2 linked regions of the Homo sapiens genome follow. The protein of the gene in region 1 interacts with the protein of each later gene in a biochemical or structural test. Each region holds a gene or a part of one and is shown on either strand. Other genes may lie near its edges.

What was found.
Region 2: the proteins of REV1 (region 1) and POLI form a complex in vitro, tested with the Homo sapiens proteins (one study listed by BioGRID).

The regions. Positions count from the first base shown.
Region 1 is NC_000002.12:99,437,968-99,445,535, forward strand, and holds part of REV1 (DNA repair protein REV1), read right to left. Parts: intron 4,503-7,568; coding exon 4,350-4,502; intron 1,344-4,349; coding exon 634-1,343; intron 1-633. UniProt on the Homo sapiens protein: Deoxycytidyl transferase involved in DNA repair. Transfers a dCMP residue from dCTP to the 3'-end of a DNA primer in a template-dependent reaction.
Region 2 is NC_000018.10:54,264,761-54,272,949, reverse strand, and holds the start of POLI (DNA polymerase iota isoform a (long)), read right to left. Parts: upstream 3,434-8,189; 5' UTR 3,404-3,433; coding exon 3,289-3,403; exon of another isoform or gene 2,918-3,288; intron 1,591-2,917; coding exon 1,465-1,590; intron 1,446-1,464; exon of another isoform or gene 708-1,445; intron 1-707. UniProt on the Homo sapiens protein: Error-prone DNA polymerase specifically involved in DNA repair. Plays an important role in translesion synthesis, where the normal high-fidelity DNA polymerases cannot proceed and DNA synthesis stalls. Favors Hoogsteen base-pairing in the active site.

The DNA of each region.
Region 1 (7,568 bases):
AGGTCTCTCCCCATAAAAAAATCCTATAATCTGTAAAAGGAACTAAAATTTCAAACCAGATACTAATTTATAATGACTGGCCCAGAAAAACAGTATGCTACTGTGTGTGCATTTGTTTTTGATGACAAGAAAAGTATTAAAAAACAAAATACAATGAACCAATGTACTTAAGATGTGAAATAATCTCACTGAAAGTTTACCACTGTTAATTACAACAGCTCTATGTCAAAATTAAAAAATCATTATGATGCAAGCTTCTAGAAATTAACAATTACTCTTATCAAACCAATTTCATTCTTACAGGAGTTTAAGCACTGGATAGATGTTATATTAACACAGTTCAAAACTTCACCAACTGATAAGGTCTACGTGAGGAATGAATGCTCAGAATCCCAACCATCTTACTGTTTAAATTCTCTGAAAATTTTCAGTCAGCCACAATTATATCTAATTGTTTTAAAAATATTTTAATAAATTAGCTTTCTATGTTATGCTTACTGTAACTTACATGATTTGACATACTTAGAGACTTTTATGAGAACTTCATATTGACCAGAAATACCAATAATAGCATAAGAGCAAAATGATCAAGCATGACTGTTTCTTAAGAAGACAATTTTAATAAGTATCTACCTGTGTCAGTTACAACAAGTGCAGACCTGCCTGTTTTCATTTTTTTTAACTTTTCCCTTCCTGGAAAGATACCATTACTTTGTCTTTGTAGGGTATTGACAAACTCAGTCAATTCACACTTCCACATTGATATGTGATGCAGTCTTGAATGAGAATAGAAGTTTGAAATAAAATTGCAGTCTGAAGGTTTGGATGGCACTGAAGGTGCTGCCTTGCTAAACGTAGATACTGAAGAAGTGCTTTTTGTGCTTGAAGGCCCCTGAACAGTGGAGTGGTGAGCACCATTGATTTTAGTGTTACTGTGCAAAGGTGATAATGAGAAAGAATTAGTTCTGTGTGGATTCCGCAAAGCATCTGTGTTTCTGGTGCTTTGCTGCAACTGCTGCAGAGTGCAGTCTCTGAAATCAGTGCTGCTCTTCTCAGCCTTATCCTCCTCCTGGGAAAAGGCTGGAGAAAGCCTGCTGGCAACACTGTTGACCATGGGCACCAAGCAATCCTGTGTCTTTAAGGCACCATTAGAGCTAGGAGTGTGTCCATTAAAAATGGCAGTGCTCCCTCTGGGATGCGGAATTCCATTCTGTTTCCTTCCCGGAGAGGTCTGCTCCAGATCCACAAAACTAAAATCATTATTTTCATCTTCTTCATTCCAACTGTTCATGCCATTGACTTTGACTTCATTTTCCGTTTCAATCTTCTTAACGATGTGATTTCTAAAGCAGGAAAAAATTTTTGAGTTAATAATATCTGACTTTTAGGTTAAAACAATTTTTTCATTTCATCATTTTCTTAGTGGTACACAGTTTGGTATTTCCCCCTTTAAAAACAGAAAATTCTTATATTGAATATTGACAATGAAAAAAAAAAACCCTGAAACTTAAACCACAAACTTTATATTCTGATTTGACAAAAGATCATTCTTTGCAAAAGTAGCAAGATAACTAGAAAAATTCTAGAATATTAACAGCCCTTTAGGTGTTTTTTGTTTGTTTTTTATTTTCACTTCAGATAGTCCCAAAGAAGAAATAAAATAGAACATTTCTCATGGCTGAAGAAAAACCCAAAAAACTTTTCAGTTATTTTTCCCATAAAAAATTAATTGGAATCTATAAGCTGTAAATACCCAGTTCTGAAGCACAGTGCTTGGCATTTACTACATGGTCAATAAATATCTGCTGAATTAATATACTACAAATAACTTTCATAAAAATGGATTTAAAAACCTTACTTGAATTCTTATTCCTAGTTTTAGTTTTTATGAAAGGTACTATTCAACACATTAAATCTAATACGAAACCAGATGGTTTCAGTAGGAAAAAAACTGACTATATTGATTAACCTATTAATGAGCTAACTGTTGCACAAATAGACAAAAAGTAAAGCCATGTCAATGTGTGGGGGTAATTCAGTAAAATTTACACCTAGAAAAATAAGGACGCTTGCCTTACTGAGAAGGGAAATTGCACTTCATTTCTAAGAAATGCATATTTAGATGCCAGGGTGGTACAAGGCAATCTGGACCAAGTTTCCTGATGACAGCTTTATAAATGCAGAACCCATGACAAATGTTATGCTAAAGTCACATCCTGGCTCCTCTAGACGTTTGTTTAGAAATGCATTCACGAGAATCATCTAAGTAACAAAAACAAAAACCTGAATTACAAAGCAGTAATTCATTCTACTTAGGAATGTCCAAATGTCCATAGCATTAATTCAATTACAGCGCAGGCTCCAGATGAAGGGCTGCCCTACAGAGTAGTAAGCCACAGGTGAAATTACCACAGTATTATCAGGTTCCACCTAAAGCCCCTCACCCTAATACCAACTTGGTTTATTAGTAATGAGAGCCTGACTACACAGAAAAGTCCCACAAGCTGGATGATCACCCATTTCTGGGTTAGCTCAGGCTCTGGCTAAACATCATATGGAATGTGACAGGCAACTGTGAGTAGATGCCATGCTCACAGATGATCATGCCAGTGATGGGGAAAAAGACAAAGTAGATATGATTAAAAGAAGAAAAAAAGAAAACCTAATTTGTCACATGCAGAGAAAGTTCAGCCTCTTGAGATAAACAGAATGCAAGGGAGCAAGAAGTCACAGATGAGCATTTCAAAGAAATGTACAAAATGTACTGAATATACCCCCCAAAAAAACCCCAGAAAACAACAAAAGTGATGTACGTCAGAAAGTCTTACATCTAGTTTTGTGTCAAAAACATTCAGACCCTTTACATGCATTATAGCAACACATGCAACAGAAAGCCATATATTGGCAGGAAAATACATTGTTAACATACATTCTTGCTGTACTATAGTTTCTCAGCCTAGACAAATGGACATTTGCAAAGTAGCTGTACTGGAAATATCACGGGTAGAGATACATTTTTTAGGCAATGGCATAAATGTATTAAGAAGTAAAATCTAAAAGGTAATTTCTTCCTAAAGTGTCACAAAGAAGATTTTGAAAAAACATATCTATTTTCTACTTTTATTAATGTGGGTAAGAAAAGAAAGCTAAAGCTACGTATTCTGTGAAAAGGTTTTCTGGTATTATTTGCTATATACCTTGATAGCACATTAAAAAAAATTAAAAGCTACAGGTAACATGAAAAATATTTGAATATGCTTGTGAGTACAAGTTAAATTAACAAATGACAACAAAAATTACAGAAGGCAGTGATACTGGATCCTCTCAGATTAATTAGACTCCTGGTGTTTTCGAAAAAAAATATATCCAACTCCCAAAGCAAGCAATTTAATAAATAAAGAGAAGGCTAACCATAATGAACCACCTGATATACAAGGTAAGGCAACCCACCAATTAATTGTGAAACAATTTATCCAGGGTTGCAATTAAAAGCTTAAATTAAAAAAAAAAAGCAGCCACATGGAATAGTCTAGATTCACTTTCAATTCTATAACCAAGGGTCACCAACTAAACTTCCATTTATATATTTACATATTTAGAATGTTATGAATTTTGAATTTTTCAAAAATAACCCAGAAATATTAACATTTTCATTGTCTTTCTATGCATGGAACACAACAAAAATATAGCTGGTGCAGTTAGTTCCATTTTTGAGAAAGCAATACAGCAAATTACTTGTGAGGAAATAATTACTTTCATAAAAATCCATGAAAAAACTTATTAACAATTAAGATCCACTAGTTTAAGGTGAGAAACCAGTATGACTGTAAAAACTTACTTACATTTATGAAATTATCATTATAAAAATAATTCATTTTTAGATAAGACACTCATACACACATATTTCAACATGTTTATTATAAGTGAATGGCCAGGGTTTGTATCTGCTTCTGTCTGACTGTAACAGAGCAGGGGCCATGCTCACTGCTAAAAACCAGCTTTGTGGCCAGGCGTGGTGGCTCATGCCTGTAACCCCAGCACTTTGGGAGGCCAAGGAAGGTAGATCACAAGGCCAGGAGTTCGAGACCAGCCTGGCCAAGATGGTGAAACCCCGTCTCTACTAAAAATACAAAAATTAGCCAGGCGTGGTGGCACACGCCTGTAAGCCTAGCTACTCGGGAGGCTGAGGCAGGAGAATCACTTGAACCTGGGAGGCAGAGGTTGCAATGAGCCGAGATCATACCATTGCACTCCAGCCTCGGCAACAAGAGCAAAACTCCATCTCAAAAAAAAAAAAAAAAAAAAAAAACCAACCAGCTTTGCAGTAATCCCCAACTAGACAAACTTACACCCTGTTGTTGAGCTGTTTGGCTATATTGCTTGGACCTGGCAGAGGATCCTCAGGTCTGCATACAGGATTAAAGCTGAGACCTTTCTGCACACTGGACTGCTTGGTGTACAGCTGATATGGAATGTAGGAGAGGAGTCGTCCAGCTTTGATGCTGAAACAAAAAGCAACACCAATTTAGAGTTCCATACTTGGTGACAATGAGCTTCATGAAAAATATTCAATGTCCTTAAAGATACAGTATTTCACCAACAACAGGTCATCTGTTTTCCTAGTTTATTCCTTCTTGCTCGGTTTTAGTGGTCCTAATACAATATGATCTTAGAGTGGGGAAAAACTGCAAGCACAGAGCTGAACTAGTCAATATTTTAAACCTCATGACTTTAGTATTTACCACCCTGTCAACAGTTAACAGAGAATCATCAAGACTTCATCAAAATCTCATCTATTAAGGTTTTCCAAGATAAATAAACTGAATAAGGATGCTCAATTTCCAAATTCATGTCAGAAACTGTAAAATAAAAATATAGGACAAAATAAAGAATCTCAACTTCAAGAGTAATAATTTATACTATTTTTATGTATACAAGAATGGTTAAGAGCCAAGGCCATTTGAAGATATGAACTCTACAAGGGCCAAAACTACCATGTACATCCTCACAGCATATCACACAACACCACTCAAATCCAGGGGAACACCAGTGTTCTAACGCTAGGTGGTACTAGCACTGTAACTGAAGTTCCCAAATGTCTGCTTCCTTTTGTACTTCAGAACTAAAACTAATTTGATTGCAGTATCTAAAACTGACATTTTCTTGCTAATAAACTGAGTTATATATGGCTACTCTACCTTTAAAATTATCATTTCACTTCAAATTTAAAAATAACCAATCAATATACTTATGCTATCATCCAAATTTCAAAACAAGCTACTTTAATATTAGAAAATATTTCAAAACAACCTCTGGATTTTAAACCTAAAATATATACCAAGGAATCATCCCTCAGTTATTTAGAAAAAGACTGATAAATAACATGATAAAAATATGTTTCTTATTGTCTCATAAATCCAAGACTTGACATTTTCATTTTCTTAAATGGTGTCACACAAAACTTTTTAAAAAATAATCATTTAAGAAATGACTGAATTGGCTTACAGAATACTAATTAAAAATAACTGAGTCAACAACTTGGAATACAGGAAAACATACTAACAGATTCTAAAAACGGAACTATATATGATACAGAGTATGTCCTTTATATAATTATGTCAATATATATTTAACAATTCTACCTAAAGTACCTTAACCTATATCAAATGCTATAACTATTAAATTATGATGGTAAAGAACATACTATACTAGTCGCAAGACATGTAACCAAATGGATTTATGACCAGGCTAAATGTTTTACCAAAATTCAGGTTACATTCAAAATACATTCAAAATTTCAGGTTACATTCAAATATTAGAATCGAAACCCTAAAATTCGACTATTTTTTACTTTATTCTTCCTCAAACCAACTTTTCTTCCTTTTTTTTTTTTGAGACGGAGTCTCGCTCTGTCGCCCAGGCTGGAGTGCAGTGGCGCGATCTCGGCTTCACGCCATTCTCCTGCCTCAGCTTCCCGAGTAGCTGGGACTACAGGCGCCTGCCACCACGCCCGGCTAATTTTTTGTATTTTTTTAGTAGAGACGGGGTTTCACCGTGTTAGCCAGGATGGTCTCGATCTCCTGACCTCGTGATCCACCCGCCTCTGCCTCCCAAAGTGCTGGGATTACAGGTGTGAGCCACCGCGCCCAGCCCTTTTCTTCCTTTAATAGTTGGTCTCAATTGCCTAACTATAAATCTTTGTTCTGTGGTATTATGTATATCAAACTCACTTGCTTCCCCCACCAAAAGAAGTACAGCTACTTAATACCTGAAATAAAATCCTAACCTTAGCTTTCCATCCTTTATCATAGATAGCTATAACTAAGAGACAAGTAGAGAGTGAAACTACACCCACTGTGCCAGCTGCACATCTCAGGTAAAACCAAAAGTGCAAGGAACAAAACGCCCTATGATCATTCTCGCTTTTCCTGCCCTACTGACAGCATGCTGGAGTGATGCAGACTCTACAGGTACTCTCTATGGTCAGCACTGATCATATACAAGGGTGTCAGGCCTTATCCAGCTCCTAACAAGAGCCATGTGGCCACCCACAGAATTCTTAGGCTTACATAAGTCAGTCCATGGAGACTGCTACAAAATTAGACAGCCAATTTAAATACTGCAAGTCTCAAATCAGATATCCTCAGAGATACTCAATAAAAAGAATTAAAGCCCAATGCACTACAGTAATGTTAGTGAAGTAATGTCAGTTATAATTTGAAGCCTAAACCACTATCTATCAGTTGTATACTCCTAACTACCCCTGCTTGCCCATTTATCTATCTATAGATATATAGACAGAAACATTATCTGAAAGCATATTTGTATAAGACCTTTTTAAAAATCTCTCTGGGATTAATTTCTCACATTTACTATTTCCCCTCTTGTTCTAAGCGCAAAGGAACTGTACTGACATTTTCTACTATTCTTTCAAAACCAAAAGGAGAGGATAATAAAAAAATCCATCTTTATCCAAAAGATAATACTACACGGTTTCCTTATACACTGAGTTTTTTCATGTACATTGAAACTATATTCTGATATATACATGAAAGAGTTTACATTCTATACAACGAATCAAAACATAGTCATAGCAAGTGAAATATTCATCTATTTTGGGAAGTCTTACTCTTGCTTTGTCCTACAGCCTCTGCGTTTAGGAACAAAAAAAAAAAACACAAGGAATGGCAAAAAAAACTCATGAGAGATAAAATTGCAATCAACTTTTATTTAAATGAGTTGCATAAGCACTCTAATATTTAAACACTGAATGTAATTAGAAACCAAAGTTTTGACTCATATGTAAGCACATGACAAACGTATATGGTTTGGGAGTTTAGAAAGAAAAGATAAACTGAAAGTCCTACTAGTAGATCCCATTGAGCTGGCATGAACCAGAACAATAAATTATCATTCTGTCTCAACTCCCAACAGATCTATGTGACCATCTAATCACGGGATATACAAATATAAAAAACCCACGCTACAAGGTTCTCAATCTACAAGGATCAACACAAAATCAAGAACAACAAAAACAAGAACAATCTGTAGCAACTTAGGACAATATT
Region 2 (8,189 bases), on another chromosome or scaffold:
AAGTTTTTTCATATATCAGGTAATGCCCAAAAATATAATCATGGAACCAAAGGTAATAATAATTTGAGATTCCTCAGTGAACTACATAAAAAATCAGATTGCTAGATTTCTTAACTAAAAAAAGGAGTCCTTTAATAGAGCATTACATTATATGGCCTCATCACTGCATGTCACTACTGGTCGGGCACGGTGGCTCACGTCTGTAGTCCCCGCACTTTGGGAGGCCAAGGCAGGTGGATCGCCTGAATTCAAGCATACGAGACCACCCAGGGCAACATGGTGAAACCGTCTCTACTAAAAATACAAAAAAATTAACCGAGTATGGTGGCGCACACCTCTAGTCCCAGCTACTTGGAAGGCTGAGGCAGGAGAATCACCTGAGCCCCAGAGGCAAAGCTTGCAGTAAGCCAAGATCGCACCACTGCACTGCAGCTTGGGCTACAGAGTGAGACCCCTTCTCAACAACAACAACAAAAACAAAATGAAAGACTACTTTCGTTTTCCCCCAAAAACATGGAGCATTCATATCCCTCACTTCCCAATAATCATTCATTCGTACTTAATTACAGTTTTTTTATTAAGCATTATCTACAGAACATCTTATAACACAGTGCTACTACTCAGAAATGCCTTCAGGAGAAAAAACTTAGGTCCCCTGATTCTAACTCCTTGGCACCCTTAGAAAAGTTTTAAGATCCTAGACTCACCTTGGCGTAGCAAAAACTAGTCATCCCTTTGTTCTTCAGTAAATCAGCTAGGCTGGATTGGGATTTATTAAGCCAAAGTGGGCACAAGAGGGTAGCAGCAAGTGAACCAAAAATGTTCTTTATGCTTACACTAAAAGAGGAATCTTTCCTGCATGCATGAAAGAAAATCTCTTTATCTTTCTCAATTTAAAATATGAATAATAAAAATGATAAAACAAGCTAGCATATCAACAAATATCCAATATAAAATTTATTTTGGCTTTTATTTAAAAAGATGCTTATGTTTTTACGGCAAGTTTGCTGTCTTAATAATACTTAGGTTTATGTTCAAAATCCAACTAGTTAGTTAGATGTTACACAATTTAAGAGATAATTTCAGAAAGGGGAGGACAGACGAACACTTCCACTAAAATGTAATAAGAGGCTGTTTTTGAGAACAAAGCCTGTAAAATTTCAAATAGTGAGAAAAAGAAATCTGACCAGCAAACTAAGCTACTAACCAGCACAGAAAAGTAACATTTATTCTGCTTTCTCTTCATTTGTTCTGCCGACTACACTATTCTCAGATTCACCACTTATTAAATGAGGCTTGTAAAATTTACACTTGGTAGTGAAGCAAAAATGACCAGCTATAAAGCACTGTAAGAACTGCTTCCAAAATCTTTCTTAATAAGGTTAATAAATCAGTATATAATGAGCATGATGAGTTGCTAATCTAATCATTATGCAATTAAAAATATTATAAATCTACAGTTACCTAAAGGTTTGTCTTTTAGCTCTGGATTTGAGATCATTTCTACTTGTGCATAAAAGCAATCCAGATCCACATGTACTATGACTCTGGATGAAGCATTTGGTGTGGGCAACACTTGATCATGAACTCCTGCACAATATGCAAAGAAATAAAAAGAAATTCAGGCTGCTTATTATCTCTGAGCAACTGACAGTTCCTTAAAACATGGTACCTGTGAAGGAAGAATGCAGAGTGACGTGTTTTCTCCTGGATTATGTGTGAAAGCATCGAAAAATTACAAAGACATGAAACTCCACTTAGGGTAGGGTCTTCAGTCCTCTTAATTACTGTTTGTGCACTGCGTTTTTCTCAGGATAGTAATAAGTTTGAAGGGAAAAAATGTGATAAATAATGGATGATGAAAGAGCTAATACTATCACCTGGAAGTTTATAGTAGCTCTTAGTGTAAACCAGAAGGGGCAGAAAAGTTGAAATGACGTTGATTTTCACACAGCTTGAAAATTATTCTAAGCAGCATGCCCTTACATTTAAAACAAACAAACCAACAAAAACTGAAATACAAAATGGCAAAAGACAACCAGTGGGTACAAGTGTGGGCTATTTTTAGCTCCCATGGCAGCAGGATTATCTGGTTTAATGCTAAATCGCCAGTGCCTAAAACAGTGTCTAGGACATAACAGACCACCAATAAATATTCACTAAATTGAAAGACTGAATAGTTCTTTGATTTTAAAAAGTTGTTAGGTCATTATTTGTCGGGGAGGGAATGACAGAGGCGACTCCTTCTCTCAACACTGGCTAAAAACAAGACAGGCAAAATACAATACAATATTCTGGTTGGGATCCTGGAACAGAAAATGAACGTTAGCAGAAAAACTGGTAGAATATTAATAAAGCGTGTAGTTCAATTAATAGTATTATACCAATGTTAATTTCCTAGTTTTGACAAATGTACTGAGTTTATGTTAACACTAGGGGGATCTAGCTCTGCAACTTTCAGGTAAACCTAAAGTTCCAAAATTTAAAAGGCCAGGCACGATGGCTAACTACTGTAATCCCAATACTTTTCGAAGCTGAGGTGGAAGGATCGCTTGTGGCTGGAGTTTGAGACCAGCCTGGACAACACAGCTACACCTGATCTAAAAAAATCTGAAAATCAGCCAGGTGTGGTGGCACGTGCCTGCTGTCCCAGCTACTCGGGACGGAGAGGCTGGGGCGGAGGATCACTTGAGCCCAGGGGTTCGAGGCTGCAGGGAGACCTTGTCTCTAAATTAATGAATGAAACAAAACCAGCAGGAAATGAGAACCGGTGCCTTTACATCCAGGCCCTGAGGTGGGCGGTACAAGGTAAAGACCAGAGCTGGAAGTGGGTCACCGGAGACGTGACCACAGCGGACCTGACTCCGCCTAGGTTCTGAGCCATCCCTTCCTGCCAGGACTGAGATCCGGGTCCCACCTTCTGCCAAATGAGCGACAAGGTCCTCAACTTCTCCAAAGTTAAAAGGCCCAGAAGCCTCTGCAGTTTTCGTCGGGCTGGCTGAGGGATTCCCGCCCCACCTCGCCCCTCACAGAGGAAAGGACGGCGCAGATAAACCCTCGACACGTATTTGTAGTGTGGACGCGCCCCACCCTACTCCTGCTGGGTGAAGCCATTCCTCTAGAGGTACCCGCCGCGTAACACAAGGCAGAGGGAGGCAGCCCTCTCTTAGAGGAGCCGAGTGGGGCGGGGACGGTCGCGCCCCAGTGGCCGCCGCCCCGAGCGTCCGCCTGCCCCACCCTTCTCATTTACACCCAAGGAGGCCGCTGGCTCCTCTGGCTGCGGCGCACCCTGCGAGCTGGCTGCCGCCCCCACGTCCGCCAGTTCCATGGCCCAGGCCTCGGCGTCTTCCTCGTCGTCGTCGCCGCCGCCTTCCTCCTCCGGCTCCACCCCCAGCTTCTCCATCCCGCCGCTGCCAACCGCAGCGCTACTTCCGGCCGCTTCCGCCTGGTCTCCAGGGAAACCGGGGGACTACAGTCTCCAGTCGCTCTGTGCCTCTCGCCTGCGCAGTCGTGGCCGACCAGCCTGTTGCCCAGAGTGACACGCATGCCAAGGAATCGTGGAGGCCCACGTGCGGGAGTTTTTTCCCGCCGGGTGGAGGCCGGAAGCGGAGAGATTGAAAGCACAAATGGCTATTTTTTTTTTTTTTGAGACGGAGTTTCGTTCTTGTTGCTCAGGCTGGAGTGGGCAACAGTGACGCAATACCGGCTCACTGCAACCTCTGCCTCCCGGATTCAAGCGATTCTCCTGCCTCAGCCTCCCAAGTAGCTGGGATTAACAGGCATGCGCCATCACGCCCAGCTAATTTTTTTGTATTTAGTAGAGACGAGGTTTCACCATGTTGGTCAGGCTGGTTTCGAACTCCTGTCCTCAGGTGATCCACCCTCCTAGGCCTCCCAAAGTGTTGAGATCACAGGCATGAGCCACTGCGCCTGGCCTTTTTTTTTTTTTCTTGAAGGCTTTGGAGTTAGGCCCACATCACAAATTTTAGCGTTTTGTCTTTGTTCCATTCGGCTGTTAGCAAACTTGCAAATCCCTAGACCTGAGTGATTAATGTGATGGGGTGGGAAGGAGTGTAACTGATAGTAAAGACACAGGTGGCCTTGTAAACTCATATGATTAGCAACTATGTTAAGGTTTGCTGTGTTTTGTTTGTTGTTGTTTTATTTAAAGACACTGTGACGAATTCAACCACAGAATTTTTAACATCAAAACTGAATAGGATTTGATACATGAGTGTTGTAGTCAGACAAAATCTCCAATCCAGACCCTCCATCATGCTGTGTGACTTTGGGCAGGTTACATAACTGCTGTGAGCCTCAGTTGCTCTACTCTTAAAAAAAAAAAAAAGTATTGAGATTGAATGAATGGATAAAAGCTACCATATACTGTAATATCCTAATGTATATAAAACATGTGGCACATAGGAAGTGCTCAGTAAATGTCTATTCTCCTTGCCTTCTATTAGGATACCATGTGTGCATGTGTGTGTTGGTGTGTGTATGTGTATGTTTTACAATAGAGGAAATTTGGAAATTCCTCCATGCCTGTATGTATGTATATACACTATATCTGTATAAATACCCAAATTAACACATATGTTTGGTTTTTTATATGATTCTACTTCTTATCAAATAAAATATTAGAACCTTGAGAAACCCTTTAAAGCAGCCATTCCCAACCTTTTTGGCACCAGGGGCTGGTTTCATGGAAGACAATTTTTCCACAGACAGAAGGGAGGGGGATGGTTTTGGGATGATCCAAGTGCGTTACATTTGTTGTGCACTTTATTTCTATTATTATTACATTTTAATAGATAATGAGGTAGAATCAGTGGGAGCCCTGAGCGTGTTTTCCTGCAACTAGACTGTCCCATCTGGGGTGATGGGAGATAGTGATAGATCATCAGGCATTAGATTCTCATAAGAAGCATGCAACCTAGATCCCTCGCATGCGAGTTCACAGTAGCGTTCAGGCTCCTGTGAGAATCTAATGCCGCTGCTGATCTGACAAGAAGCAGTGCTCAGGCAGTCATGCCAGTAGTGGAGAGTGGCTGTGAATACAGATGAAGCTGCACTCCCGGGCCCGCTACTCACCTCCTGCTATGCGGCATGGTTCTTAACAGGCCAGGGACTGGTTCTGGTCCATGGCCTGGGGACTGGGGACCCCTGCTTTAAAGGATATGTTGATGCATCCATGAAGAAAAGGGAATAACAAGCAGAGCTGGGTCTCAGTGGTTTGGAAACAAAATCTTCCTCTTTGCATATTTAATTCTTAGATGTCTGGACCAGTTCTTTCAAAGTCTGCTATCTAGGTTATAAATTACCTGTTCAGAGAGCTAGGCTGCTATCTTTGTGAAAGCTGTTTGATAAGTCTAGATAGTTGTTTGGTGGTTTTTCATTTTATTTAGTTATTTATTTATTTATTTTGAGACAGAGTCTCAGTCTGTCTCCCAGGTTGGAGTGCAGTGGTGCGATCTGGGCTCACTGCAACCTCTGCCTCCTGGGTTCAAACAATTCTCCTGCCTCAGCCACCTGAGTAGCTGTGATTACAGGCGTGTGCCACCATACCCAGCTAATTTTTGTATTTTCAGTAGAGACAGGGTTTCACCATGTTGGCCAGGCTGGTTTCCAACTCCTGACCTCAAGTGATCCGCCCGCCTTGGCCTCCCAAAGTGTTAGGACTACAGGCATGAGCCACCGCGACCCAGCCTACATAGAGAGCTTTTGAATTGAGTGTCTCTTTGTCCACTAAGTGCTTCTTGGACAACATTCAGTGGTCTGATTACTAATAGACAACCAAAGTTTGTTTTTCTTTTCATTCTTCCAGATAGAAAATGATATAAACACTAAAATACTATGGCAGATGAAAACGGTCTCTCTAGAAGAGCCCTAGGCTCACTAACATTCAACATGTTGCTTAAGTGAGACAGTGTTAAAAAACAATGCACGTAATCAAGCCCTCTTTAGTTAGTTGCATTTATTTCCCCATCCGTTGTTTAATTTGAAGAGTGGCTTTTAATTTCGTGAAAGGATAGAAAAGTAGACCCTTGGAAATCCTAGGGGAGCAAGCAGGGCTGGCTTGATGAGTATGTGACGTAGGCAGTCACATAGGGCTCAACACTTGATTTCATATTCTGCTCTTGTCTTGAAATTCTTAATTTTTTAACAAGGAAGCCCCATATTTTCATTTTGCCCTGGACCCCAGAAAGTATTTAGCAAGTGCTGGAAATAAAGAAGAGAAGCAGCACTAAAAAGGACACTCATAAAACACCTGTATATCAAGCACAGGGCTAAAAGCTTGAAACAGGTCATTTCATTCAATATAATAGCCCTAGAGGGTAGATGTCAGCATCCTCATTTTACCAAAGATGAAATAGCCTAGGAGAGATTAACATGCTTGCTCAAGGCTATGAATCTAGTAATGGCAGATCCACTTTTCAGAATTTTCCACAGTGAAGAATTCATTAATAATGTTTTCTCCATATAGGAAATCAATTAGCTCTGACCATTTTCCTCACTGCTTCAAACACCAGACGGCTGGTAGTGGGGAGAATAAACATCCCTCAAAGGTATTAAGAGGCACGAAAATAAAATTTATATAAGCTAACGTGTCTCATTGTTTTGGAATGTTTTAGGAAAAAAGGATTTTGGGGTTTGATTCTAAAAATCCCTACTCCCAGTTTTAATTAATAGGATCTAATCTAGAATAACTTCAGGAAATAGCTGTCTTGAGCTTGGGTCATAACTGTATATTTAAGTGCCAAATGAAGAAAACAATTTCAAGGCAGAATAGACATAGTTAATTAAATAATATTATGGTCAAACAAAATTTATGGAGGAGCATGGATTTACAGAGCGTGGCTAGTGGATAAAGAAGCTGGAGGCATTTTAGAGCTTCAGAAGTCAAGACATGCCAACACGGTGGCTCACATCTGTAATCCCAGCTACTCAGGAGGCTGAGGCAGGAGGATTGCTTGAAGCCAGGAGTTTGAAGCTTCAGTCATGTATGATTATGCCACTGCACTCCAGCCTGGGCAACAGAGCGAGACTCCATCTCCAAAAAGAAACAAAGAAAGAAAGTCAGCACATTATGAACTTAAATACATTTAAAAGGATAAGCATGAACTCCCATGTCAGTGGAGGGTAGGAAATAGGCATCAGTGGTTACTTCTCTCCTCTTAGCCAAATTGGCCACATATGGCTCAGAGGAAGAACACTAGACAATGTTCAAGGTATTTCATATGAAGAATGTGAGGGTGTTTGTGTCTGTATTTTATGTTGGTGGGTGGCTAAGTGGGTAGAGTTGACCATGGAGTTAAAGGAGCAATTTGAATTGGCAAAGGCACAGAGGATTTGATTTTGTGAGGTCTTTGGCCTAACGCAATCGTTCTCAAGCAAGCTGATTTTGTTCCCTAGTGAATATTTGGCAGTGTCTGGAGATATTTTAGGTGGTCACATCTCTGTGTTGGAGCTCTGTGCTACTGGCATCTAATGGGTAGGGGCCAGGGATATTGCTGAACATCCTGCAGTGCAAAGACAAACCTTTATGACAAAGAATTATTCATCCCAAAGTGTCAATTGGTCCGTGGTTGGGATACCAGTAGTGTCTACACCACCTTGCTCCCAACTAGCCTCTTCAGATTAGGGTCTCCAGTTGTAATGAAGAATTGGTCTTCAGTTACGTGCTTTTAATTATAGATAGGACCAGGTTTGGTGGCTCATGCCTGTAATCCCAACACTTTGTGAGGCCAAGGCAGGAGAATGGCTTGAGCCCAGGAGTTTCAGACCAGCATAGTGAGACTTCGTCTCTAAAAAAAAGTAATAAAAAAAAAAATTAACCAGGCCTGGTGGGACATGGCTGTAATCCCAACTACTAGGGAGGCTGAGGTGGGAGGAATGCTTGAGCCTGGGAGGTTGAGGCTGCAGTGAGCTGTGATTGTACCACTGCACTCCAGCCTGGGCAACAGAGTGAGACTCTGTCTCAAAAAAAAAAAGAAACACACACACACACAAAAGAAAAGAAAAGAAAAGAAAAAAGGGTATAAAAGATGAAAATAAGTATTATTTAGTTGCTTCTCACTGTGGGAATTTACATTCTGATACTAAAAAACAAATGGTATGCATTTGCTGGAAAAGAAATTTAAGAAAAATATCCACGGCTTGGCGTGGTGGCTCACACCTACAATCCC